4 linked regions of the Homo sapiens genome follow. The protein of the gene in region 1 interacts with the protein of each later gene in a biochemical or structural test. Each region holds a gene or a part of one and is shown on either strand. Other genes may lie near its edges. The genes, in order: SLAMF7, DHCR24, SH2D1A and SH2D1B.

Region 1 (6,117 bases):
CTGCAGGCTAACTAGTCAGGGGAGGAAGAAAAAGGGCAAAACACATTTTAACTGCAACCTTTAACGTCTCAAACCCATGAGTAGAGAAAGGTAAATGATGAATGTCAGACTCTTACCATCTCACCAATGAACCAACTACTCATTCTCTGAGGCAGGGGAGTGAGCACAGAGTAGAGAAGGGGGCCAGAAGGGCTACTCCAACACAATTTTCTCCTAGAGAGTAAAGTGAACTCTCATAGAGAGTAAAGGGAAGCCTGAGGACAGAGACTAGGGAACCTCTAGAACAGATAATATTAGCGGACATCTAACATGCGTTATCACAGTGCTTGCCATGTGGCTATGCTTAGTAAATGACAGTTATATTCTTATTGCATTATTATTTCTATTATTTCTATTGTTGTTATTGTTATTATTATTATATAGCTATGGTAAAGCAGACCTAGGTAGTTCTCTTTTCCAGATACGAATGAGGATTCTGCTCTGAATTACTGCTTTCTCTCCAGTCTGGAGCTCCCAGGGAGATTCAGGTCCAAGGTATCCAAGGATAATTCAGAGAATGGAGAGCTATAGGCAGAGTTTCCACCTCTGGTTTTCCTTCCTCTCACAGAGCACCTGTCAAAGCCTAAAGTCACCATGGGTCTGCAGAGCAATAAGAATGGCACCTGTGTGACCAATCTGACATGCTGCATGGAACATGGGGAAGAGGATGTGATTTATACCTGGAAGGCCCTGGGGCAAGCAGCCAATGAGTCCCATAATGGGTCCATCCTCCCCATCTCCTGGAGATGGGGAGAAAGTGATATGACCTTCATCTGCGTTGCCAGGAACCCTGTCAGCAGAAACTTCTCAAGCCCCATCCTTGCCAGGAAGCTCTGTGAAGGTGACTGCCTCTCCCCTCTCCACAGGAGACTCTGCCCAGGTCCTACACCTTCTTCAGCTCCTAGCCCCCATGGGAACAGACACTGTATGGAAACTGGAGGCCGCTGGGTGGTCACCAGGCTGGGAGGAAGGTGGCAGGTGCTCCAAGACCTGGGTCGTTTTCCTGAGCTGACTTTTCTCCCTTCCCTGTGCCTCCACCCATTCTCTGAAGGTGCTGCTGATGACCCAGATTCCTCCATGGTCCTCCTGTGTCTCCTGTTGGTGCCCCTCCTGCTCAGTCTCTTTGTACTGGGGCTATTTCTTTGGTTTCTGAAGAGAGAGAGACAAGAAGGTAGAGCGTGTACTATTTTTGTCCTCACCCACATTCATGTTTTTCTCCTTCACTGATTCAACAAGCACATATAGAGCTGTGTGCCAGACTTGGCATGAGGTGTTGAAGATGCAGAGATGAAGAAGCCACAGTCTCTGCCCTCAAGAAGCATACAGTCAGCCTGTGCTCCTTAGTTCTGGAGTAGAGAAAGTGCTGGAGGTCTTTCCCAAGGACACGGTTCTCCCAGTTCCCTTTCCAGGGCTCACTTCTCTCCTTCTCCCAGAGGGACATCCTGATGTGGCTCTTCTGTTGATACAGGCCCCACACTGCTGACTCTGCTCCCCTGACCTGGGAGGTGATGGCCTCCAACTCTGAGGTCCCCACAGACCAGCATCCTCTAGTCAATCCTTCCTATCCCTGTCAGAGCCCACAAACCACCCACACCCTTTCCACAGGATCAACCCAAGACCTCGCTTTACTGCCCACTAGACACATGGCTCCTGGGGAAGCCTTTCCCTGTCTCTCTCCAGTTGCACCCCATCCTGTGTTCCTAAACCCTGCTGATTGGTCTTCTGGGCTCCCACTGTCCATGTGGGTGATGGGGAGGGACCTAACATCAGTTGGGTATGACTTGCAGACTTTGAAATCTCCCTTCCCTCCTGGAAGCCCCTCTGAAAGTGTCTTTGACTTTCTCTACTTCCCACTTTGACCACCTTGATGGAGAGATCAGGAAGTGAAATGTTGGGGGTGGCCAATTCATCCTGATTTGTTTAGATTTTCCCAGTTTTAACACTGAAAGTCCTCTATCCTGAAAACCCTTCCATTACAAGGAAACTCGGCTGGTTGGTCACCCTAAGTGGGTCATCCAGGAGAAATGGTGGGCCAGTGGAAGTGGTGAGTGGTTGGAGAGGTGGCTTTGATTCTCTCCCAACTTGCTTTTAGAGTACATTGAAGAGAAGAAGAGAGTGGACATTTGTCGGGAAACTCCTAACATATGCCCCCATTCTGGAGAGAACACAGAGTACGACACAATCCCTCACACTAATGTGAGTCCCTTCTCATCTTTCCTGAGAACTGATCCTGTCTCTGAGGCTCTCCTTGTGAGGTTTTTCCATGGGTTTGGACAACATGGGAATGAAGAGGGGAGTGAGGATATATAGACTTAAAACTCAATGCACCTGTGCCTCCTCCAAGTCTTCATGGATTCTCTTCTGTGCAGAAGAAGCTGGTGGTCTCTGGAGCACCTGGTTCTGACTCACAATGCTCATGCTGTGGTCTGTGAAATCACCTGCTCCCCTCCACAGTTCATAACGGCCACACAAAAGGCCAGATTCCTTTTGCATAAGGCAGTGGGTAGAAGAGTGTGACTTTGACAGGATGTTTGAATCATGGTATCAGAAGACTTCTCTAGAGATCTCTCTCTCTCTCTCTCTCTCTCTCTCTCTCTCTCTCTCTCTCTCTATATATATATATATATATATATATATATATATATATATACACACACATATATATATAATATTTTTGAAATTCATTTTAACACAGTACAGTTTAAAAATAATGTAATGGCTTCCTGAAAAAAGTTATCAAAATTTATTATAATAGCAGTCACCAACAAGAGAACTTCCTACCTCCCTTCCCTGTTCCAGAACCCTCCTTTTCCTCTCACATCTCCTCCCATCTCTGCTTTCCCCTCTCTGGATTCTGAATGTCTCTCTGGCCTTGTCTATGTGATTCAGGAGGTGGGTGATGATTTCTTTTGTTTGTTGTTTGTTTTTAAAAGAGAACAATCCTAAAGGAAGATCCAGCAAATACGGTTTACTCCACTGTGGAAATACCGAAAAAGGTAAGAAGCTTTAGAGCTTAACTTCATCTTAATGGTTCCATTTCTTTTCCTGCTTCATGTTTAGGTCAAAATTTCTTGGACCCAGGTATCTCATACTCTCTAGAATTAAAAAGTACCCTAGTAGTTCCCCATTCCCTTTGCTTAGGGTTATACAAGAACATGGGGGATGGAAGAGAATTGTGTTTTAGGAATCGAATTGGGTAATCTGGAACAAATAGAGTAGGACAGAGGTTCTAGATCGGAATAATAAAGAAAATCAAAAGCCTTCTGACTGAAGTTGCAGACAAGGAAAAAGACCATGGCTTAGATTGTGCATGGAATGAAGAGAGGAATAGCTGAGAGGAGAGTCCAGCTTTCTCCTGAGACACCAGGAAACTGCAGGAGGGAGAGATCTCTACTTTTCTCCCATGGTCCAGCTATGTTACATCTGCTTTGCACCCTCCCCTCAGTTAAACTACTAATGCAGTAGCTTTAAGGCTTATTCCTTCACAGAGTACGGTTGGCAGCAGTAATGGTATCTTTCTGTCTCCTTTTTCTTCCTCTCCCAAACAGATCCAAAAAGATAAGAATCATTAAAGCAGTTTGCTTAGTAATAGAAAAGGTTGGTTTAGTGAATTATTACAACTGAACAAGGAAAGTTCAGTTCATTAAGCATTCAGCAAGATAAATATGCGTTAAACTTACAGAATAGTTTCTCTAAGCTAGGGGTGATTAAAATCAAACAGTGGGAGCCAGCATGCCAGCCGATTTGGGTTGGGTAACCTTGGAAATAAAGTTTCCTGGATGTCAGGGTCTCCATGGACGATCCAGAGCCCTGCTCACCTCCCTCACTCTACTTTCTTTTTGTCTGTCTTCAGATGGAAAATCCCCACTCACTGCTCACGATGCCAGACACACCAAGGCTATTTGCCTATGAGAATGTTATCTAGACAGCAGTGCACTCCCCTAAGTCTCTGCTCAAAAAAAAAACAATTCTCGGCCCAAAGAAAACAATCAGAAGAATTCACTGATTTGACTAGAAACATCAAGGAAGAATGAAGAACGTTGACTTTTTTCCAGGATAAATTATCTCTGATGCTTCTTTAGATTTAAGAGTTCATAATTCCATCCACTGCTGAGAAATCTCCTCAAACCCAGAAGGTTTAATCACTTCATCCCAAAAATGGGATTGTGAATGTCAGCAAACCATAAAAAAAGTGCTTAGAAGTATTCCTATAAAAATGTAAATGCAAGGTCACACATATTAATGACAGCCTGTTGTATTAATGATGGCTCCAGGTCAGTGTCTGGAGTTTCATTCCATCCCAGGGCTTGGATGTCAGGATTATACCAAGAGTCTTGCTACCAGGAGGGCAAGAAGACCAAAACAGACAGACAAGTCCAGCAGAAGCAGATGCACCTGACAAAAATGGATGTATTAATTGGCTCTATAAACTATGTGCCCAGCACTATGCTGAGCTTACACTAATTGGTCAGACATGCTGTCTGCCCTCATGAAATTGGCTCCAAATGAATGAACTACTTTCATGAGCAGTTGTAGCAGGCCTGACCACAGATTCCCAGAGGGCCAGGTGTGGATCCACAGGACTTGAAGGTCAAAGTTCACAAAGATGAAGAATCAGGGTAGCTGACCATGTTTGGCAGATACTATAATGGAGACACAGAAGTGTGCATGGCCCAAGGACAAGGACCTCCAGCCAGGCTTCATTTATGCACTTGTGCTGCAAAAGAAAAGTCTAGGTTTTAAGGCTGTGCCAGAACCCATCCCAATAAAGAGACCGAGTCTGAAGTCACATTGTAAATCTAGTGTAGGAGACTTGGAGTCAGGCAGTGAGACTGGTGGGGCACGGGGGGCAGTGGGTACTTGTAAACCTTTAAAGATGGTTAATTCATTCAATAGATATTTATTAAGAACCTATGCGGCCCGGCATGGTGGCTCACACCTGTAATCCCAGCACTTTGGGAGGCCAAGGTGGGTGGGTCATCTGAGGTCAGGAGTTCAAGACCAGCCTGGCCAACATGGTGAAACCCCATCTCTACTAAAGATACAAAAATTTGCTGAGCGTGGTGGTGTGCACCTGTAATCCCAGCTACTCGAGAGGCCAAGGCATGAGAATCGCTTGAACCTGGGAGGTGGAGGTTGCAGTGAGCTGAGATGGCACCACTGCACTCCGGCCTAGGCAACGAGAGCAAAACTCCAATACAAACAAACAAACAAACACCTGTGCTAGGTCAGTCTGGCACGTAAGATGAACATCCCTACCAATACAGAGCTCACCATCTCTTATACTTAAGTGAAAAACATGGGGAAGGGGAAAGGGGAATGGCTGCTTTTGATATGTTCCCTGACACATATCTTGAATGGAGACCTCCCTACCAAGTGATGAAAGTGTTGAAAAACTTAATAACAAATGCTTGTTGGGCAAGAATGGGATTGAGGATTATCTTCTCTCAGAAAGGCATTGTGAAGGAATTGAGCCAGATCTCTCTCCCTACTGCAAAACCCTATTGTAGTAAAAAAGTCTTCTTTACTATCTTAATAAAACAGATATTGTGAGATTCACATACAAAAAGATGCATTATTTTGCTATTTGCAATAGTGAAATTCTGGAAACTGCCAAAGAAACTGACCACCACAGGTGAAGGTCTGTTCATACATAGACATTAAGAATTATGGGTTAGGCCGGGAGCAGTGGCTCACGCCTGTAATCCCAGCACTTTGGGAGGCCGAGGCAGGTGGATTACTTGAGGTCAGGAGTTCAAGAACAGCCTGGCCAACATGATGAAACCCCGTCTCTACTAAAAATACAAAAAATATTAGCCGGGCATGGTGGTGAGCCCCTGTAATCCCAGCTTCTTGGGAGGCAGAGGGAGGAGAATTGCTTGAACCCAGGACGGGGAGGTTGCAGTGAGCCAAGATCGCGCCACTGCACTCCAGCCTAGGCGACAGAGCAAGACTCCATCTCAAAAAAAGAATTATGGGTTATACTCAGCATCATGAAATATACCTGTGTAACCTACACATGTAGCTTCTGAATCAAAAATAAAATTAAAAATAACAAATTTTTAGCATGTGCCTGTG
Region 2 (6,807 bases), about 110 Mb from region 1:
CGAGGATAAGGAAACTCAAAAGCAAAATAACTTGTCCAAAGTCACACAATTGGTAAATGGCAGAGCTGAGATTCATAGCCAGGACTGTTTGACTTCAGGACAGGAAAGATAGATGGAGTTGTGGTAACAGTTCACAGGGTAATAGCTAACACGTATGGAGGCTTATCACATGCCAAGGCCTGTTTAAACATTTGTATATGTTAACTCATGCATCACTTTGAGGGGAAGAGGAGGAGCAGGGAAGGACCACCAAGCCAATGGAAGGAAGAGGTTTTACAAAACCTCTAAGGTAAGTGACCAGAGCACAAAACACAGAACAAATGGCCCATGGATGACAAGCCCATCAGAAATGCAGGAGGAAGTGTTTCTTTTCTGCTGAGATAGACAAGTGCAGGGGGGGTGGATATTTGTCATTTTGACCTGTGACCATCCATTTCCTCTTCATCCACTTCTAACAATCCCCATCTTCCTTTGGTCCAAGTGAGACTGATTCTACTCCCCTACCCCAGGAGGTGGGTACATGACTGAGGACTGATTCTATACTTCTGGCCAGAGACAGATTAATGACATCTCATTAAGTCAAGCCAATGAGACCAGTTCCAGGACAGCCACTCTCTCTTTACTGGGGTCGCTAAGCCGGTTGGATATGAGCCAGAAACTGTTGGGGCCTCTGCAGGGAGAGAGGCTCCAGAGAATGAAGTCAACCTAGAAAAGCAGGGCCAACAGATGGCAGAGGGATGGACAGATGGAGATGGGGGACAGAGGATCCTGGATCCAGCCATGCCTGATCCAGTTGTACTCCCAGACTTTTCAGGACCTGAGCCAATAAAATCCCTTTTTGCTCAAGTCAGTTTGAATTGAGCTTCTTTCACTTGCAACCAAAAGTCTGGTCAAATACTGGTCAGGTCTCCTGGAGAAGGCTGCACTGGAGCTGGCTAGGCAAACAGCTCAACACGGGGAAGGACTTTTCTTTGATCAGAGGCCAGGGCAGGTATTAAGGAAGAGATTCCTGTGATTTGGGGGAAAAGGGATGATAGGTAGGATTCCACGACCAACCAGGTCTCGTCCCTGCCTGAATCTGCAGCCACGGAGTTTGACACAAGCCCAGAGATGGGAGGGAGTGATTAGGGGTGCTGCACTGAAGCTGGAGGCCAAACAGAGAGCCCAGAAAAAAGGGCAACTAGGTCAGACAGCTATTACAAGCCAGGTGTGAGGCAACTGAACCAGACCTATAGGGGGGAAGGGAAAGCCTGGGAAAGAAGAAATGTCAGAGTTCAGGCTCTGAAATCGAGCTAACCTAGGTTCTAGCCCCATTTACTGACTAGTCTTCCTGAGCACATGACTCACACTCTGAAACTCAATTTTCCCTGTTTGTAAGATAGGCACAAGATCTACCAGGGTTGCTGTGAGGATGGCAATGGCACATGGCAGGTCTGGGGTAGAGGCTAGTCCAGCTGGGCCCCTGTTTTCCTGCTCACAGTGAATCTTGTGGCTTAGCCAAGATTAATAGGCACTCGCTAGGCTGTTTTGAGCCAGGCCCTATGGGCCACAGGCGAGTCACATAACAGTCCCTGCATTCTAGGAGCTCACAGTCTGACAGGGGAGACAAGCAGGTAAATGGAGAATTTGAACTCGAGAAAAGAGCTAGGAAACAGGGTGCAGGTGGGGAGGGAGGACACGCAGAGGCTCTGGAGCCATGACTGTGACCAGCAAAATCCAGAGCTACAGGGCAAAGCACTTCCAGACACTGCGTTCTCCCACCAGGCCCCAGGTCTTATGCCTCATGGGAACGTCTCTCCGCATCCATCTTCATGCTCTTGCCTGAAGCACCCAGCGCGGAGCAAGCAGAATATGGAGGCTGCTACACCTACGGAAGGGTGGCAGCAGGAAACAGAAGCTCTCTGCAACCTGATGCCAACAAGAGAGGAACATAAAGAGAAGCAGAGGGAGTCAAGAAACTGCCCAAGTCCCTGGATGCAGAGGAGGCTCCACTGTGAGCCACAGCAGGTCACAGGCTCCGTGGGTGCCTGAGGAACTGAGAGATGGACCGACTGCCTTTGTCAAGGAGTGAGCCCTCCGTCAGCAGAGGCTGTGAGGTTCTTCCCTCCCGCTTCTGGGCTGGGTTCTACCTTCTTGCTTTAGTCTTCTATCCTAAACCCAATCAAAAGCGTCTTGCTGTACAAAATAAAGTCCAAACTCGGCCTTGGCATCAAGGCCCCTCTCCAGCCTAGCACCAAACGGACTTTTCCGACGTTCTCCCGCCCCTGCCCTGCACTTGTCGGCTTCCCAGCATTTGCTCACACCAGTCCCTCCACCCACACACCTTCCCCCAATCATTTCCCATACTTCCCAATCTCTAGACCCAGCTCCACCTCCCGGAAGCCTTTCCTTCTCTGAAATGCTTGGGCCGGGTGAGAGTTACCTGAGTGCTTCGCACCTCCCCCTCTTCCCCTTCTTCATCTCCCTCCAGGTACCCGCATATGCCCTGCACACAGTGGGCACTTTGCCTGTTCTGTTCCCCCGCCCCCATCACATTTTTGTTTCGTTCCAACCCCTCTCCAACGCCAGCTCCCCACCCCCCCAGGAAGTCCTGGCCGCCCCCGCACCGCAGCTCCCGTCGCCACCTCGCGTCCCGCTATCCCCGCGCACGCCGCCTCCGGCCCTGAGTCCCGGCCGCACCCGGCGCCGCTCACCTGCTTCTGGATGTCCCGCACGCGCTGCTCGTGCAGGCGCGGAGCGCTGCTGAGCTTGAACACCACCCAGGCGCGCACGTAGTAGTAGATATCGAAGATAAGCGAGAGCGGCAGGAGGAAGAGGCACACGAACACCCAGCGCTGGTGGATGAGCACGAACTCCAGCCCCTTCAGGCGCACCCACAGCAGGAAGAGCAGCGCGCACACGGCCAGCGACACGGCGGGCTCCATGGTGCGGCGCCGCGCGGTAAGCGCTGCGGGTTCGCGCCTCCTGTCACTGCCGCCAGCTCCGCGCCTGGCCCGCTCTGCGCCTGTAGCCCACAGCCCGGGGAGCCCGGGATCGCCCGCCGCCTCGCGATTGGCTCGGGTCGCCGAGGTTCGGTGGGCCGAGACCCGGGCGGCGACCAATGGCGAGCCGCGCCGGGGATCGGACCAGGAACCCGCAGCTTTCATTGGCTGCGGGAGTCGGACCGCTCCACCCTTTTCTCCCCGCCGCCGCGCGAGGCGGGGGTGCCAGGGACTGGGTGCCGGTGGGGTCCGCTGCGAATACTGGGGGTGGGCAGTTGGGACTCAGGGCCCCAGGCCCTCGGGGCTGCGGGGCCGCCTCTTCCAAACGCGCCTTAAGCGGTTTTGCAGTGGCTTTCCGCCGGAGGGCTGGGAGGCGCCCCGGCCCTGAGTCAGTCACCCTTTGGCCGGACAGGCGGTTCCCGGGCGCGGAGGATGGAAACCTGGCGGTAACCTCTGCAGGTCGTGCCACTCGGTGTGCGCAAGGTCTCCAGAGGCATCTTTTCATTTTTAGGGGGCACTTTCCACGAATTCATTTGAGCTACACAGCAGTCCTGGGCAGTGGGGAGTGGTGAGCTCCATTGTGTACACTTGGAAGCAGCCCAGAAAGGTGAAGACCTGTTCGTGAACTCCAGAGGCCATTGGAAGCATGGAAGGCTATGGCTGGCACTCTTCCTCTTTTTCCAGTTCACTGAGGCAGATGGGAGGCCCGGAGGAGAAAGAATGAAGGAAGGCATTTCAGCCCGAGTAAACTCCCCAGGCCCGCTCTGTGCCAGGCAGTGTTGCAAGCCTCGGGTAGGGTGGTGAGCAAAGCAGATGGCCCTGCCCTCACTCAGCAACCAGTGTAGGGGAGCTGCCACGGTTACCAGCAAAAGCTGAAATCCAGCGCCATTTGCATTTCATATGGAATTTTAGGAAGTTTTCGAGATGTTTTAGTTTAGAAGCTAAACATGACATACCAGGTTCTTCTCTGTCTGGCCTTGCATACCTATCCAGTTCCCTCTCCATTCATCTCTGCCCTGACATGCACTCAGGAGGCTCCCTGGGCCTCAGCATTCCTCATTTGCGCGCCTCTGGTCAAGCTAGTACCTCTGAATGCCCTTTCCCATCCCCTTCTCAGAGTTCACCTCACACATTCCGAAGCCAGCTCAGGGCCACCTCTGAAACATTTAGAGCACTCCCCTGCCCATCCAGATGCTCATTAAATAGTGTGCATCTCTGTCACCGTTCTTTCATGTTATTTTATAATTGTCTCTTTATGTGTCTCTCACCCCCACAGACTGAGCCTTAGGGCAAACAATGTCTTGTTCACTTTTGTCCTTCCAGCTTCTAGCACGGTGCTTTGTGCACAGTAAACACTCCAGCGGCTGTTGACCAATGAATGAATGAAGATTGTAGGCTCAAATATTCAAGTTATCAAAGTGCAAAGAATGAGAGGTTGTTTGCACTGGACTTCAAAAATAAATAGCCTGGACCTGTACTGTCTTACACAACAGCTATGAGCTACTGGTATGTGGCTAGTCCAAACTGAAATGCCCTTTAAGAGTAAAACACACACTGGATTTCAAAGACTTAGTACAAAGAAAAAATGCAAAATAGCTCATTAGTAATTTTTATGTTAATGACATGTTGAAATAACATTTTGATATATTAAGTAAAATATAGTATTAGAATTAATTTCACCTGTTTTATTTACTTTTTTAAGGTGGCTACTAGAAAATTTAAAATTACAGATTTGTCTTGTATTACATCTCTAGAAGCTCCAACCAACAGGGGGACAGTGAAGTATGAAGAGGAAAGCCAATGTGAAAAATGCCTCTCCCCGATTCTGTCTGACTCTGTTAAAGAGGGCTTTGCTTTAGAAGCTTAACCATTCTGATTATTTTGGGGGTGTGAGGTAATCTGGAAAGTAAAATTTACCTAAAAATTAACTGAAGAGTGTTGTGTAGGAGAAACAGTGGAAATTACTGGTTAATCAGAATAGTTTTATACTTGGGAAGAGAAGGATGGAGTCCCAGAAAGTAGATACAACTGATCTTTAGGAAACAACTCCCAAAAAAGGAAAGGAATAAAAAAGTACTCAGGCTGGGTGTGGTGGTTCATGCCTGTAATCTCAGCACTTTGAGAGGCCAAGAGGGGCAGATTGCTTGAGCCCAAGAATTCAAGACAAGCCTGGGCAACATAGCAAGACCCTGTCTCTAAAAAAAAAAAAAAAAGAATAAAAAAAAAAGCTGGGCATTGTGGCATGCACTTGTAGTCTCAACTACTCAGGAGGTTGAGGTGGGAGGACCGATCACTTGAGCCTGGGAGGTCAAGGCTGCAGTGAGCCATGATCACGCCACTGCATACTAGTGTTAGCAACAGGCTGTCTCAACAACAAAAAAGTGAAAAAGTACTCAGAACAATTGTTTATTCAGTGTGCACGTTTCTCATTCTCTCTTCCTGCCTACCCTCCTCATATTTCTGATTCTTCTTTTCTGTCTCCCCAAACTCTAATCCTTTGGGTTGCTTTTATCCAGGTAAGGAAAGCAGTCACTTGAGTTGAGCCAATCAATTAATTAATTTTTTAAGTTAACATATAGTAAAACTGCTTAATCTTTGTACAGCTGATGAATTTTAGCATGATGAGGATTCCTGTAACTACTACCACAATGAGGATACAGAATAGTTCCACCACCCCAAAAAACTCCCTCTGCTGCCCCTTTGTAGTCATACTCTCCCCTACCTCCTAGCCCCTGGCAATCATTGCCCTGTTCTGTCACTATAGTTTTGTTTTTTTTCCAGAAGGTCATATGAATGGAATCATATGATATATAACCTTGGACCTACTAATTTTTGCTGGAGTCAAAGCAGCTTCCTTTGTCAGGGAATCTATTCATATTATACATTACTTACAGAGTTGATGGAGCATGCAGACAGTCAGAATGCTTAGGAATAGGATGTTCTGGGCAAGAACTTTTCAGGTTAACTAGGTAAACCCCTTTTATAGTTTGACCACGTAGCAATCTTTCTACAATGTGAGCCTCTATTTCTTTCTTAATAAATAGAGTGTAAAGAACAGTTTTTTTTTTCTTCAGTAAAGGAGCATGATAAATACCAGAGTCCTAACAAATTGCATTTTCTTATATTTGTACAGTGCAGCTACTGAGATCATTTGATCTTTGCAACCAGTCTCAGGAGTGGCAATGCAGGGAATTAATATGTATTTTTTTTTAAATAAATGGGGACATTTAGACTCAGGTTAAGTGACTTACCTGATCAATGTCTTATTCTGGTGAATAGAGAATTCTAATGCAGTTGGTCTGCAAACTACACTTCACACAATAATCAAGGGAGCAGATTCAAATGATGGAAAGATCCAGAAGTTGGGAGCCATTCATGTGGTTCCGTTCCATAGATATGAAGTAGAAGTTTTAGAACAGGGTTTGTTGAAGTGTGGTTTGTAGACCAACTACATCAGAATGCTTGCTAAAATGCAGAGTCCTAGACTCTACCATATCCCACTGAAGCTAAATCTCCAGAAGTGGGGCCAGAAATCTACTTTTTAAGAAGTCAGCTACGTTATTCTTATGCATGCTAAAATTTAGGAGATTGGACTGAGTATTAATCCTGGAACTTCTTTAAGAATATTACCTTTGTTTGGCCAGGTGCGGTGGCTCACGCCTGTAATCCCAGCACTTTGGGAGGCTGAGGCGGGAAGATCACAAGGTCAGGAGATCAAGACCATCCTGGCTAATGTGGTGAAACCCCATCTCTACTAAAAATACAAAAAATTAGCTGGGTGTGGTGGCGGGTGCCTGTAGTCCCAGCTACTCAGGAGGCTGAGACA
Region 3 (7,042 bases), on another chromosome or scaffold:
CTATTAAAGGGACAGGAAAGAACAAGATGAGACAGACAAGAGCAGTTAAAATGTTATGGGCTTATAGAATTTTTGATGTTTTTACAGAGATTTATTAAAAGTTATTAGAATAATAGATGAAAATTATAGCACATAAATTGTCACCTCTCATTTGACTTGCTGGCTACATCTACTTTCTCACTGCATTTTTCTTACATAACTTCTAATTGATTATATGGTTATGAACAGGTTGACTCATAACTCTGAGCTTCCAAACCCTGTCAAAAATTAAGAGGAAATCATACCTGTAGTACCTTGTGTACTTCTAGCTGAGGACTTCTTCTCAACTGGATACTGCAGAGGTATTACAATGCCTTGATCTGGCTTCTGAAATGCTGAAATGAGATTTTTTATTTTCCGGAAATATCTTTTATGTACCCCAGGTGCTGTCTGGAAAATAAAAGGCCAAGCAAATTATTTACCTATCTCATAATGATACAAAAAGACCTACAAAATGTGCTAGGGATGCTAAGAGAAGTAACATTTGTGTAACTTGTTGAAATATTTGAAAACATAAGGAAGAAGGAAAAACAACATTCCAGAAGAGCTTACTTTGGTTGGCTGAATTTCCCTGCAAGAGGAGCTAATGAGCTGTCATTTCAGTTCTCCCAAAGGTGGTATTAGTTTGTACAAGCTCTTGCTCATTGCCCTGCCCTTCCTGCCTGCTCCCCATCAGACATCTCAAACCTCTAAGGGTATACAGGCCATTACCCACAATGAATTCACCAACAGAGGGGATGCAGTTAAACAGGAAAAAACAAAAACAAAAACAAAAAAACAGATCCTACAGGTCATTAATAAAAAGCCTGAGGAACAACAACAAAAGAAAAACCAACAACCCATCCTCCCTGCCATCATCCCACAATATAAAATGCTACACAGGAAATTAAAAATTGGCTGTTATGATGCACACAGTGCACGGCTAGTTCAGTCCTCATACTCTTTCACCTCACAATATTTCCTGCGCCATTCTTCACATTAAATTTTTTCCTCCTTGGGAAACTTCCCTATACTCCCAAAATTGTTCTCTCCATCAGCACGTCACTGTAACAAGGTTTTCTCTATGACATGAAAATGAAAGACTATATAAGGTCACCTTTATTTATTTATTTGTGTGTTTTTAAAGAGACAGTTATTTGCAGGTGACTATTAAAATGTGTTCCTTTCCTGACATCAGTTGTCTTGCAAAGACACTGCCTGAAATCAACAACAATTTCCTGCAAAAGCTTATGAGCCAAGCTTCAGGCATCAGCTCAAACCTGTCATTTTACGTAAAATAAAATAGTATTGCTATGAGCAATTGAACAATGACTAGTTTTTTTTTTAAGTTGTTTTTCAGCTATTCCATCTGGTAGATTTTTGAGGTGGGAGCTGTTTGTTTTTTTAGCATTTAATGAGAAAACATGAAGGCGAGCATGAAGACTTCTGTCAGCTAGATAGTGGTATGCTGAAGATAGCATACTACACTATCCATAGTAACTCTCAGTCATTTCCTTATGTTGGGGTAATTTTTCATTGAAAACATGACAAAAATTCTTTTTAGCTCTATATTAGTGTTCCCCCATATGTTCACAGTAGATGTAGAACACTCTCTCACCCAGCTCCACCCCACTCTCTCACCTACCCTCCACCTTCCTAAAGCTCGATTGAGAACTCATCCAAAATAACATGGCCATTCTTGCAGAAGTCCAAACAGTTCGTTGGTTCCAAGATAGAGTCTCCAAATTGCAAATGCAGGTCATAGGCACAAATTGCCTCCTTATACTTTCCTCAGTGCACTTTTTCATTTTCAAAGCACATTCCTATCTCTTGCCTTCACTATTTCCTCACAAAATGGCAGTTATTGGCTGATTCAGTTATTCCCATTTGACAGATAAGAAAATATGAATGCAAAGAAATTAATCAGCTTGCCCAAAGTCACACAGACAACCAGAGGCAGAACTGGCTCAGAATCCCAGGACCCAGTCTCTTGCCTTTCAGATTAGAACTGGGCCAAACAGGATCTAGCGAAGCTAGGGTCATCAAACAGAAGAAAAACTATACACACCTAAAGTGTGGAAAGATTTCAAACCACACATCTTTTTAGCTTCTTGTGGCTTGTAAAGTCATTTATCAACAGAAGCATAGCCGGGCACAGTGGCTCACACCTGTAATCCCAGCATTTTGGGAGGCTGAGACCGGCGGACCACCTGAAGTCAGGAGTTCAAGACCAGCCTGGGCAACATGGTGAAAGCCTGGCTTTACTAAAAATATGAAAATTAGCCAGGTGTGGTGGCAATCCCGGCTACTTGGGAAGCTGAGGCACAGGACTCACTTGAACCTGGGAGGCAGAGGTTACAGTGAGCCGAGATCGGGCCATTCCACCACTCCAGCCTGAGCGACAGAGTGAGACTCTGTCTCAAAACAAAACAAAACAGAGAAGCAACATTTTTATGGGTACTGATATGTAGCTAACACTTGATTATCCATGCTAACAGAAATGAATAATAGCACTGGAAGTATGGAAGCTATTTGAATTGGGGATCTGATGTTTCATAAGCAAATGACTGGCCTATTTTACAGTGTTTTACTTAGATTAATAAGGACAATTATTTAACATCTGCTGATCTCCTGATCATATACCCAGTAAAGCCTGAAGACACTGATGTCAACAGGGTGATGTCAGTACATTTTTAATAATGTATTGCCAACAAATCACATATTAATAAATGAAAGTAGATTGTGGAATTATCTAAATTAACAATGTAACAAACTTTTAGTCTGAGTCATATAAGATAATACACTAGGCAAAGATTTAACCTAAAAGTCTCTCTAAAACTAGAAAAACACATGATATCTGTCTTTCATAATTCAGTGGGGCCAGGGTTTGATTTCATTACACTCTTTAAAACAAATCTCACTTACCTAGATTTCTAGCATAATATATGCACAGATGGTGGCATGCTACTGCCTTGATTTTTCCTGCAGCATGGCAAACTAAAACATTGTTCCAAAAATCAGTATTAATATCTATCATTTACCCAGTTTCGAAAATACATTTATCACAAGAATTGTACCACTGACAACTCTCATCCTGTCACTGAACTCAGCTATTCTTCAAATTTGCAAATCTCCCATACTGTCACCTCTTAGTTATCCATGGAAACATGTATTAGATCACAGCTGGTCTTCAATATGCTCTAGAGAAATTTTTTCCAGTCAGGTGGTATGAGCTCTGAGAATATACACTAGTTTAATTTTCACCTTAGAAAAGCACTGCTAAGAAGGTAAATTTAGTAGATAGAAAAAAATGCAATATGCATTTCAAAAATTAAAGAATTTTTTAAACTATTTTCTATTTGCGGATGTCATGCCAATCTTCTGCTCTCTTGGTGCAGAAAATTACAATATTATTACATAAACAACGTCAGATCAGACAACAGGATGAGGGGGCATTTGTGTTCAATAAGCCCTCTCTTCTTTAACATGATCACAAGCATGTAACAATCTCATATGATGTTATACTCAAAATGCAGGAAAACAAGTTGAAAAACAAAGTTGTTAAACCCTAAGCATTTAAGATCCTTTCCTTACATAATATTCTTCAGCAGCTGAAGGGTATTTCTCTGGGGAGAAGAGCTATTTCTGGCGAAATAATATACAAACGTGTGTGTGTGTGTGTGTGTGTGTGTGTGTGTGTGTGTGTGTGTTTGTCAGTATATTTTACACATAACTTTCTTCATAATAAAGTTTAATTTCTTATTCAATCATCTCTGCAGTGATACAGAGAATTTTTTAAATAAACAGGTATAAATAGTTTCAATTAGAAATGGTATAACTTTATCTTTAGTTAGTATTATAGTTTTAATGATCCTTACATAATACAGCAAAAGTGTGTTTGAAAACTTGGCCTAATTCATCTCAGTGGTTCAAAACATTTGTGGTCTGTAATTTATACTTTCCAACTTACTGATAAATCAGTAAACGTGAGAGCTATTTTAACTTCTTGAAGTCTAGACTTCAGAAAATTTTAAATGCACAGATTGAGTTATTAATAGGAGTTGTGGCAATTTTCAGGAGTTCACTTTTTTGAGGGCTCACTGTGTGCCAGGCCTTGTGGCAAACAGCTTCTTTATGTGTGTTATCTTATTTACTTTTCAAATTGAGCCTTGTGCATAAGGGAGGATTCTTAGGCTCCGTTTACAAATGAAGAAACTGGCTCACAGAAAAGTCAAGTAACCTGCCCAAGATCATAGACCTATCAGAGAGGAGGGGAGACCAGACCTGGAACCCAGATTCACCTGTTGACAAAGCCTAGTTTCTTCCACTCATAACTGTTTAATTTCAAGTTATAACTTCCCAAGTATATTGTAGTCTCTTAGAAAATAAGCATCATGTTTTTTAATCTCCCACGATACCAATACTCATATTGGTATCATTTGGTAAATAATTGTTCATTTAATTATTTTACCTACTTTTGATATGCTAAGATTTCACATAGTCACTAAAAGTTTGACATAATTCTTCAACTTTTTTATCTTTCTCCCAAAGTCATACAACTCTGCAAAATGATGGCTAAACAGGACTGGGACCAAAATTCTCTAAAGCTTTCTTAATGATCCATGAACAATTTTGGATTGGAGCTTTAGAGATTTAAACCTTATGAATACTTAATAATGTATAATTTGCTCTTTTATAAAACCAGCCTAAATTTCAAATACCTCCTTGACACCCCCAGAAGCAAAAATAAATACAACTATACCTCAGCACTCCAAGAACCTGTTTCTGTCTGGGACACTCGGTATGTATAAATGTAACCGTGATACCTGTGAAAGAATAAACTTCCATTACTGAAAGATTCCAAAAGAACAATGGATACTTTAAATTTGAGCTTAATATTACATATAAATGTCACATATACTAGGACACACGTATATGGTGTCATTGCATTCATAGGAAGTAAAGCATAGTGAATCTAACTTGTCTCCATATTGTATCTGCCCAACCACAGTTTCCAGTGAGATTTCTTTATCTTTTCATTTTTTGAAATATGGAAATTCATGCTCCTAAAGATTTGTCAAGTTGAGAGACCATTTGGACAGAAAGAAACTACAACAGGGACCTGTTGTAATTGATAAAACCATGAATTATTAGATAGTTTTAACAAACAATAGACTTATTTTTAAGTACATATCGAAACTTAAGGTGAAAACATTTCACTGGGATAATACACTATCAGGCCCACATAAATAATTATTAATATTAATAATATTTGTTATAAATATAATGGCAATAGTATAAGGATATAATACTATAAATTGAATATAACTATATTTTTATAAAATTACTATTATAATGTATAGCAATATAATATTGCCACAGTCATGCATCACTTACCAAGGGGGATACATTATGAGAAGTGCATCATTAGGTGATTTCGTTGTTGTGCAAACATCATAGACTGTACTTACACAAACCTATATGGTATACCACCTAGGCTATGTGGTATAGCCTATTACTCCAGGCTACAAACCTGTACAGCATGTTACTGTACAGAATACTGTATGCAATTGTAACATAATGGTATTTGTGTATCTAAACCTATCTAAACATAGAAAAGGCACAGTAAAATATAGTATAAAAGATAAAGAATGCTATACCTGTTGAGAGTACTTACCATGAATGGAGCTTGCAGGACTGGAAATTGCTCTGGGTGAGTCAATGAGTGAGTGGTGAGTGAATGTGAAGGCCTAGGACATTACACTACTAGAATGTTATGAACACTGTAAACTTAGGCTACACTAAATTTATTTTAAAATATTTATATTTCCCAGATCACGAGGTCAGGAGATCGAGACCATCCTGGTTAACACAACGAAACCCCATCTCTACTAAAAATACAAAAACTTAGCCAGGCATGGTGGCACGCACCTGTAGTCCCAGCTACTTGGGAGGCTGAGGCACTGAGGCAGGAGAATCGCTTGAACTCAGGAGGCGGAGGTTGCAGTGAGACGAGATCACGCCACTGCACTCCAGCCTGGGTGACGGAGCGAGATTGTCTCAAAAAAAAAAAACTGTATCGCTTCAATAATAAATTAATCTTAGCTTCAACTCTTTTACTTTATAAACTTGTAAATTTTTTTAAACTTTTTGACTCTTTTATAACACTTCGCTTAAAACACAAACACATTGTACAGCTGTACAAAACTGTTTTTCTTTATATCCTTATTCCATAAGCTTTTCTCTGTTTCAAAATTTTTATTTTATGTATTCTTTGCTATTTAAACTTTTTTGTTAAAAACTAAAACACAAATACGCACATTAGCCTAGGCCTACAGAGAGGGTCAGGATCATCAGTATCACTGTCTTCCACCTCCACATCTTATCCCACTGCAGGATCTTCAGGTGCAGTCACACACACGGAGCTGTCATCTCCTATGATATTCATATTCCAGAATGCCTTCTGGAATACCTCCTGAGGGACCTGCCCGAGGCTGTTTTACAGCTAACTTTTTTTTATATAAGTAGGAGTAGATTTTAAAATAATGATAAAATGTATAGTACAGTAAATACATAAACCAGTAACACAGTAATTTGTTATCATTATCAAGTATTGTGTACTGTATGTAATTGTCTGTGCTATACATTTTTTTCTTTTTCTTTTTCTTTCTTTTTTTTTTTTTTTTTTTTTTTTTTGAGATAGAGTCTCGCTCTGTTGCCCAGGCTGGAGTGCAGTGGTGCAATCTCAGCTCACTGCAACCTCCGCCTCCCGGGTTCAAGCAATTCTGTTTCAGCCTCCCGAGTAGCTGAGGCTACAGGTGCATGCCACCATGGCTGGCTAATTTTTGTATTTTTAGTAGAGACAGAATTTCACCATATTGGTCAGGCTGGTCTTGAACTCCTGACCTCAGGTGATCCACCCACCTCAGCCTCCCACAGTGCTGGGATTATAGGTGCGAGCCATCACACCTGGCCTGTGCTATACTATTATACAGCTGACAGCACAGTCGGTTTGTTTATACCA
Region 4 (7,042 bases), 1.7 Mb from region 1:
CCTTTCTAGCTCCATCTTGCATCATTGTTGAGTCTTCTAATTCAACGGAGGTTTTGCTTGGAGTCCAGGCTGGTGTGTTTGGCCAGTGGAGGAGCCACAGTGGAATAACAGTGAGGGTTATTCAAAAGTAGAACCCAGCTGGGTGCGGTGGCTCACGCCTGTAATCCCAGCAGTCTGGGAGGCTGAGGCCGGCGGATCACAAGGTCAGGAGATCGAGACCATCCTGTCTAACACGGCGAAAACCCTTCTCTACTGAAAATACAAAAATTAGCTGGGGGTGGTGGCGCGCGCCTGTAGTCCCAGCTACTTGGGGGGGCGGGGGCTGAGGCAGGAGAATCGCTTGAACCCGGGAGGCGGAGGTTGCAGTGAGCCGAGATCGCACCACTGCACTCCAGCCTGGACGACAGAGCGAGACTCCGTCTAAAAAAAACAAAACAACAACAAAAAAAGTAGAACCCAAGCCTAGAACCTTCCTATTTCTCTTCAGGGAAAAACCAGGTTAACTCGATCTGACTCTCATCTCTGCATTGTGCTTTCCTTTTTAGAATGCTTTCGCACAGTCATGGCTCAGGTAAAAGACATGTTCCCAGGTTCTTCTCCCCCAACTTTTGTGTTGTTGTTGTTGTCGTCCTTTTTGTTCTTACCTGTATCCTGTAATACCCGTGTTTCTCTCTGAAGATTCGGTATGTGTAGACAATATTTTTAAACCTGTGGAAAAAATGACTGTGTGAATCAAAATGTTCTATGCAAATCCAGGTAACATCTATCGTTATGTTTCATATGCAATACCTTTGTTAATCTACAATCCTAAAAAAACTCTTTTTTTTTTTCTGGGACGGAATATCACTCTGTCGCCCAGGCTGGAGTGCAGTGGTGCGATCTCAGCTCACTGCAACCTCCGCCTCCCGGGTTCAAGCGATTCTCCTGCCTCAGCCTCCTGCGTAGCTGGGATTACAGGCACCCACCATCATGCCCGTTAGAATGGCTATTATCAAAAAAGACAAAGGATATAGAGAAAGGAAAACCCTTGTACAATGCTGATGGGAATGTAAATTAGTATAGCCATATGGAAAACAGTATGGAGGTTCCTCAAAAAATTAAAAATAGAATTACTGGCCGGGTGCCGTGGCTCACGCCTGTAATCCCAACACTTTGGGAGGCTGAGGAGGGCAGATCACGAGGTCAGGAGTTTCAGACCAGCCTGGCCAACATAGTGAAACCACGTCTCTACTAAAAATACAAAAATTAGCTGGGTGTGGTGGCGTATGCCTGTAATCCCAGCTACTCGAGAGGCTGAGGCACGAGAATCGCTTGAACCCAGGAGGCGGAGGTTGCAGTGAGCCAAGATCATGCCACTGCACTCCAGCCTGGGCGACAGAGCGAGACTCTGTCTGAAAAAAAAAAAAAAAAAAAAAAAATATATATATATATATATATATATATATATATGTAATTACTATATAACCTCACTACTGTGTATATATCCAATGGAAATGAATCTAGTATGTTGAAGAAATATCTGCACTCCCACTTTTATTGCAATATTAGTCACAATAGCCAAGACATGGAATCAACCTAACTTGATTAATAGATGAATGAAGAAAGTTACACACACACACACACACACACACACACACACACACACACAATGGAATATTATTCAGCCATAGAAAAATAAAATCCTGTTACTTGCAACAACATGGATAAATCTGGAGGATGTTATCCTAACTGAAATAAGCCAGGCACAGAAAGAAAAATACCACATGGTCTCACTCATACGTGGCATCTAAAAAAAGTTGATATCATAAAACTAAAGAGTAGAATGAGAGTTCTCAGGCCTTGTCAGTGAGAGGGGGAGGATTAGGGAGATATTGGTCAAAGGATACAAAATTTCAGTTAAACAAGAGATCTATTGTACAACATGATGACTATAGTTAATAACCATATATTACGTTCTTAGGCAGGGCACAGTGGCTCAGGCCTATAATCCTAGCACTTTGGGAGGCCAAGGTGGGTGGATCACCTAAGGTCAGGAATTCAAGACCAGCCTGGCCAACATGGTGAAACCCTGTCTCTACTAAAAATACAAAAATTTGCTGGGTGTGGTGGCAGGCACCTGTAATCCCAAGTACTCAGGCGGCTGAGACAGGAGAATAGCTTGAACACAGGAGGTGGAGGCTGCAGTGAGCCGAGATGGTGCCACTGCACTCCAGCCTGGGTGACAGAGTGAGACTCCATCTCAAAAAAAATAAAATAAAATAATAACCATATATTATATTTTTGAAAAATGCTGAGAGGATATTTTAAGTTTTCTCACTACAAAAATGATAACTTGATGAGGTAATGCATATGTTAATTAGCTAGATTTAGTCATTCCACAACGTATATATATTTTAAAACATCACATTGTACAAAATAAGTACATATAATTTTATCTATCAAATAAAATAAAATGAATTAGATTGTATACTTTAAATATGTACAGCTTATTTTACTTGAATTAGACTTAAGTTTTTAAAAATAAAAAAAGTAAAATCTGCTGTTGAACCTCAATAAAAAAAGAAAAGAAAATACATGGATGGCAAATAAGCACTCGTAAAGATACCCAGTATCATTAGTCATTAGTGAAACGCAGATTCAACTCACAATGAGATACCACTACACACTTATTAATACAGTTAAAATGTAAAAGACTGACCGTTCCACATGTTGGTAAGGATGTAGAGCAATCAGAACTCATGTAATGCCCATGGGAATAGTGAGATCGCATGATCACTTTGGGAAACAGTTTGGCAGTTTCTTAAAAAAGATAAGCCTACATAGAACACACAACTTAGCTGTTCCAATCCTGATTATTTACCCAGGAGAAATGAAAGCATACACCCACACAAAGACTTAGTCACAAATATTCATAGCAACTTTAGCTGTAATAGCTATAAATGAGTAAGCAATTTGGGATGCATCCCTACAATGGAGCACTATTCAGCAATGCAAAAAAATGAACTATTGCTGCATGCAACCACATAGATGGATCTCAAAATAATTATTCCGAATAAAAGAAGTCAGATAAAAATGACTACATACTCTATGATTTGATTTACATTAAATTCTGGAAAAATACACATTAATCTATAGTGCCAGAAAGCAGTTTGTGGTGGCCCAGAGTCTGGGCATAGGTGGGAGGTATGTTGATGAGAAATTACAAAGGGGTGCAAGTGAAGTTTTGGAGGTGATAAATATGTTCATTATCTTGGCTGTGTTCGTTTCATAAGTGTACATACATATGTCAAAATCCATCAAATTGTACACTTTTTATTTTATGTCAGTGATACCTCAATAAAGCAGTAAGACATATTCATGGCATAAAAAGGTAGATGAATATAATTTATCTTTCTAATATATAAACTAAATTTTAATTCCTTATACATATGTGCTTTTGCTGTTTTCATGATTGGTTTTTGGCCTCAGATAGAAAAAGTGTTTCCTATTTTTGCAGTTATGTTCTCAATAAATATGTGGTGTCTTGACTCTCTGTGTGAGACTGATACCCAGTGGAGCCTACCTTTTTGTTTATTCTATGGAAATCGTTGTCGTCATTTATGAGAAATACACTGGACTTATAAAAAACATTTAAAAATCTTAGGCATTAATTTCTCAGTTGAGGTTCAAAAAGGCTGGAATACAGGACCTCTAAGTTTTCCCATATCTTTGAATTGTTTTACTCTATCTATTTAGCTTTCAAAGTGATCGTTCCATGAGGTGCTGTGCACGGATCTCTGAGTCCTTGCTCAACGCATGAACAGCCCACAGATTAGCACGGTCTCATGTTGTGGCCATTGTTGTGGGGAAACTTGTTTGTGTTCAAGTTTTTATTTTAACTAACCTTCAAAAGGTCAGCTGAAGGAAATGGAATCGACTGCACCCTATAATATCAACAATGTGTTCTGCATTTTTCCATGCCATGATGCAAGTGGGAAATCCAAGTCAACAAAGAAATATTTTAAGACTTTTGACCTCTGGCCTTATCACTGTTCCTGATCTCAGTGTATCTTGGTGCAACCTTTTGTGGTACTAATTTTTCAGTGTGCATGAAGATTTTTTTAAACATCTAGGATTTTATCCTAACTAGGGAGTAAGGCAAACTTTCACAGATGTAAGTACAAAAATGTTAATCATTCCAAATTACACTGAGTCCACTGGACTAAATTGCAAATGAAAATTGAAAATAACCTAATGTATGATATGTATACATTATGATATATCAAATCAATAAAATACTAAGCAGTCATAAGGGGATGACCTGCTTTCTTTGATGGGGAAAGAGACCTACAATTATGGAGAAAACAGGTTGCAAGCCATCATGTATAATGAACCATTTATGTACATATATTGGTTTATAGATGCGCAGAGAAGTCTGGAGAGATGTATGCCAAAATATTAAAAATGGTGATTTCAGAGTGGTGAGACTGATATAGTTTGTTTTGTTTTTTATACCTTTCTCTATATTTGATTTTCTAAAATGAATTTTCATTAGCTTGATAAACCACCACAACAAAATGGATCATTTCTTTTCTTTCTGTACTCTACAATCCTTGCAAAAGTCTCAGAATCTGAGACTCATAAATGACTCTCAAGGCAATAGATAGACATTGCCATTATTATTCTTAATGAGAGCATGCAGTAGGTTAGGGCTCAGGTCTTCCTCACCTGCAGCCTTCCTATGGCTTTGCAAAGTCCTCCTTTTCTTCACACTTGCAGATGAATCCTTTGCACCTCCTAATATCTACTCCATTTAATTTTACTGATGATAAAGGCAGACAGTTTAGACACTCACAAAGTCACACTACACAGACAACCTTTTACACACTGGAGTTTTCTAGACACTCTATTACATTGTAAGATCAGAAAACATTTCCTGTCCACAGTTACCACATAGCTTTCTGGTTAGTGCCATATGCTGCTAGGTCAGCTCTCTCTGTGACCTCCTTCTTTTATTTCTAACCTTCCTCACAGTATTTTCATCACTAAATATTTAGCTCTGTGAAAGTCCTGAAGTATCGGGGGAACCAGCCCCCAATATTTCAACGTAGGTTCTTTTCTATTCTCCCTAAGTGTCGGCCAGTCTAAGAAATAAAGGGAAAGAGTACAAAACAGAGAAATTTTAAAGCTGGGTGTCCAGGGGAGACCCATTTTAATGCAGCAGAGAAGAAGGGGACACTGCATATCAGAGTCCACTCCCAAGCCCTCAGGTCCCCTGCTTGGGCATTTTATAACACAGATCCAAGGTGATTACCTGAAACATATTTCAGTGAAGCTGGGGACATTGGTAAGAGAGGGAATGTAATAACATATTAGCAATTTGGCCCTAGGCAAGCTATTAAATAAGAAGCTACAGTTTATTTTCTCACAAAATAGTGATCATGTCGCCTACCGCAAAGGGATTGCAAATGACAAATAAGATAATGCATGTACCATGCTTAGCAAAATGTTTGGCTCATAGATAATACCTACATGGTAACTTTTTCTGTGTCAGTGAAGACAAGCAGGCTAACACTTGTATCATAATAGTAATTCTTGCTTTGCTTGCAAAGGGTTGTATCTTGAAGCATGAATTGGTTGATGTGACCTCTTCAGAGAAACCTTTCCTGTACCCAATGGAAAGCAGCAGCTGTGTCTCTCCCTGTCATATGACTCTGTTTCATTTTCATCATATTTTCTCCTCTTACTGAAATTAACTTCATGAGGGCAGAAACATTGCCAGTAGTATTTATCACTGTATTACCAATGCTTAGGACCACGCATGGAACATAATAAGTGCTCAGTATATGCTTGTTGAATGAATGAAGGTTCCACTTATTCTCCTAAAGTCTCAGCTCCAATATCTGGTTCTCCCCTTTTTGCTGTCAGCTCTACAGTGCCCTAATGATAGTCCAATCATCATAATTATCACATGCATCACTGTGTCTGTTTACTTCTTTATTTTCCCCACTAGGCTCTGAGTTGTGTTGAAGGCATCAACCGAGTGTCTAGCACACTGTCTGACATATGAGAGAATTCAAATATTTGTTGAACAACTAGAATTTAATAGTCCATACTTATCTGTATGATAATACATTTTTACAAGGCCCTATGAGGAGATAGCTTCAGGGGTCACTTGACCTAAGCCTTAAGCCTGAGGGTGAATGAAATGTTGTTTGCCTTTCAGTGACATGTGTAGGGAGGTGGGTGAGACCTGATCATGTGCAGGGGCTTAACAAATATTTATTTTTGCCTCTCCACTTGGTTTATTTTCATTTTTTAGCTTCTCTTTTTTTCTCTTCTTTTTTTTTTTTTTTTTGAGATCAAGTCTCGCTCTGTAACCCGGCTGGAGTGCAGTGGTGCGATCTTGGCTCACTGCAACCTCCGCCTCCTGGGTTCAAGCAATTCTCCTGCCTCAGCCTCCTGAGTAGCTGGGACTACAGGCGCATGCCACCACACCCAGCTAATTAGTTTTGTATTTTTAGTAGAGACAGAGTTTCACCATGTTGGCCAGGATGGTCTCAATCTCTTGACCTAGTGATCTGCCCGCCTCGGCCTCCCAGAGTGCTGGGAATACAGGTGTGAGCCACCACGCCTGGCCCATTTTTTAGCATCTCTTAGTGACCTTTGCTTTAGATGAATATGCAAGATGGGCTGATGCACCACAGAACAGTTGAGAATAAATATCAATTTTCAAAGAGAATCCCAATATAGGCTGGGTGCAGTGGCTCATGCCTGTAATCCCAGCACTTTGGGAGGCTGAGGTGGGTGGATCACTGGAGCCCAGGAGCTCGAAATCAGCCTGGGCAACATAGCGAGACCCCATGTCTACAAAAAATTTAAACATTAACCAGGCATGGTAGTGCGCACCTGTAGTCCCAGATACTCAGGGGGCCTGAGACAGGAGAATCTCTTGAACCCAGAAGGTTGAGGTTGCAGTGAGCCATGATCGCACCACTGCACTCCAGCCTAGGAGCTGGAGTGAGACCCTGTCTAAAAAAAAAAAAAAGAAAGAAAGGAAGGA

Evidence for each region.
Region 2: the proteins of SLAMF7 (region 1) and DHCR24 form a complex in vitro, tested with the Homo sapiens proteins (one study listed by BioGRID).
Region 3: the proteins of SLAMF7 (region 1) and SH2D1A interact in a biophysical measurement, tested with the Homo sapiens proteins (one study listed by IntAct).
Region 4: the proteins of SLAMF7 (region 1) and SH2D1B interact in a biophysical measurement, tested with the Homo sapiens proteins (one study listed by IntAct).

What each region holds. Positions count from the first base shown.
Region 1 is NC_000001.11:160,749,214-160,755,330, forward strand, and holds the end of SLAMF7 (SLAM family member 7 isoform a precursor), read left to right. Parts: intron 1-607; coding exon 608-880; coding exon of another isoform or gene 881-919; intron 920-1,090; coding exon 1,091-1,210; intron 1,211-2,131; coding exon 2,132-2,235; intron 2,236-2,972; coding exon 2,973-3,035; intron 3,036-3,892; coding exon 3,893-3,964; 3' UTR 3,965-5,608; downstream 5,609-6,117. UniProt on the Homo sapiens protein: Self-ligand receptor of the signaling lymphocytic activation molecule (SLAM) family.
Region 2 is NC_000001.11:54,884,196-54,891,002, forward strand, and holds the start of DHCR24 (delta(24)-sterol reductase precursor), read right to left. Parts: upstream 3,001-6,807; 5' UTR 2,925-3,000; coding exon 2,694-2,924; intron 1-2,693. UniProt on the Homo sapiens protein: Catalyzes the reduction of the delta-24 double bond of sterol intermediates during cholesterol biosynthesis.
Region 3 is NC_000023.11:124,363,563-124,370,604, reverse strand, and holds part of SH2D1A (SH2 domain-containing protein 1A), read right to left. Parts: intron 4,845-7,042; coding exon 4,781-4,844; intron 430-4,780; coding exon 285-429; intron 1-284.
Region 4 is NC_000001.11:162,402,095-162,409,136, forward strand, and holds part of SH2D1B (SH2 domain-containing protein 1B), read right to left. Parts: intron 709-7,042; coding exon 645-708; intron 1-644. UniProt on the Homo sapiens protein: Cytoplasmic adapter regulating receptors of the signaling lymphocytic activation molecule (SLAM) family such as CD84, SLAMF1, LY9 and CD244. In SLAM signaling seems to cooperate with SH2D1A/SAP.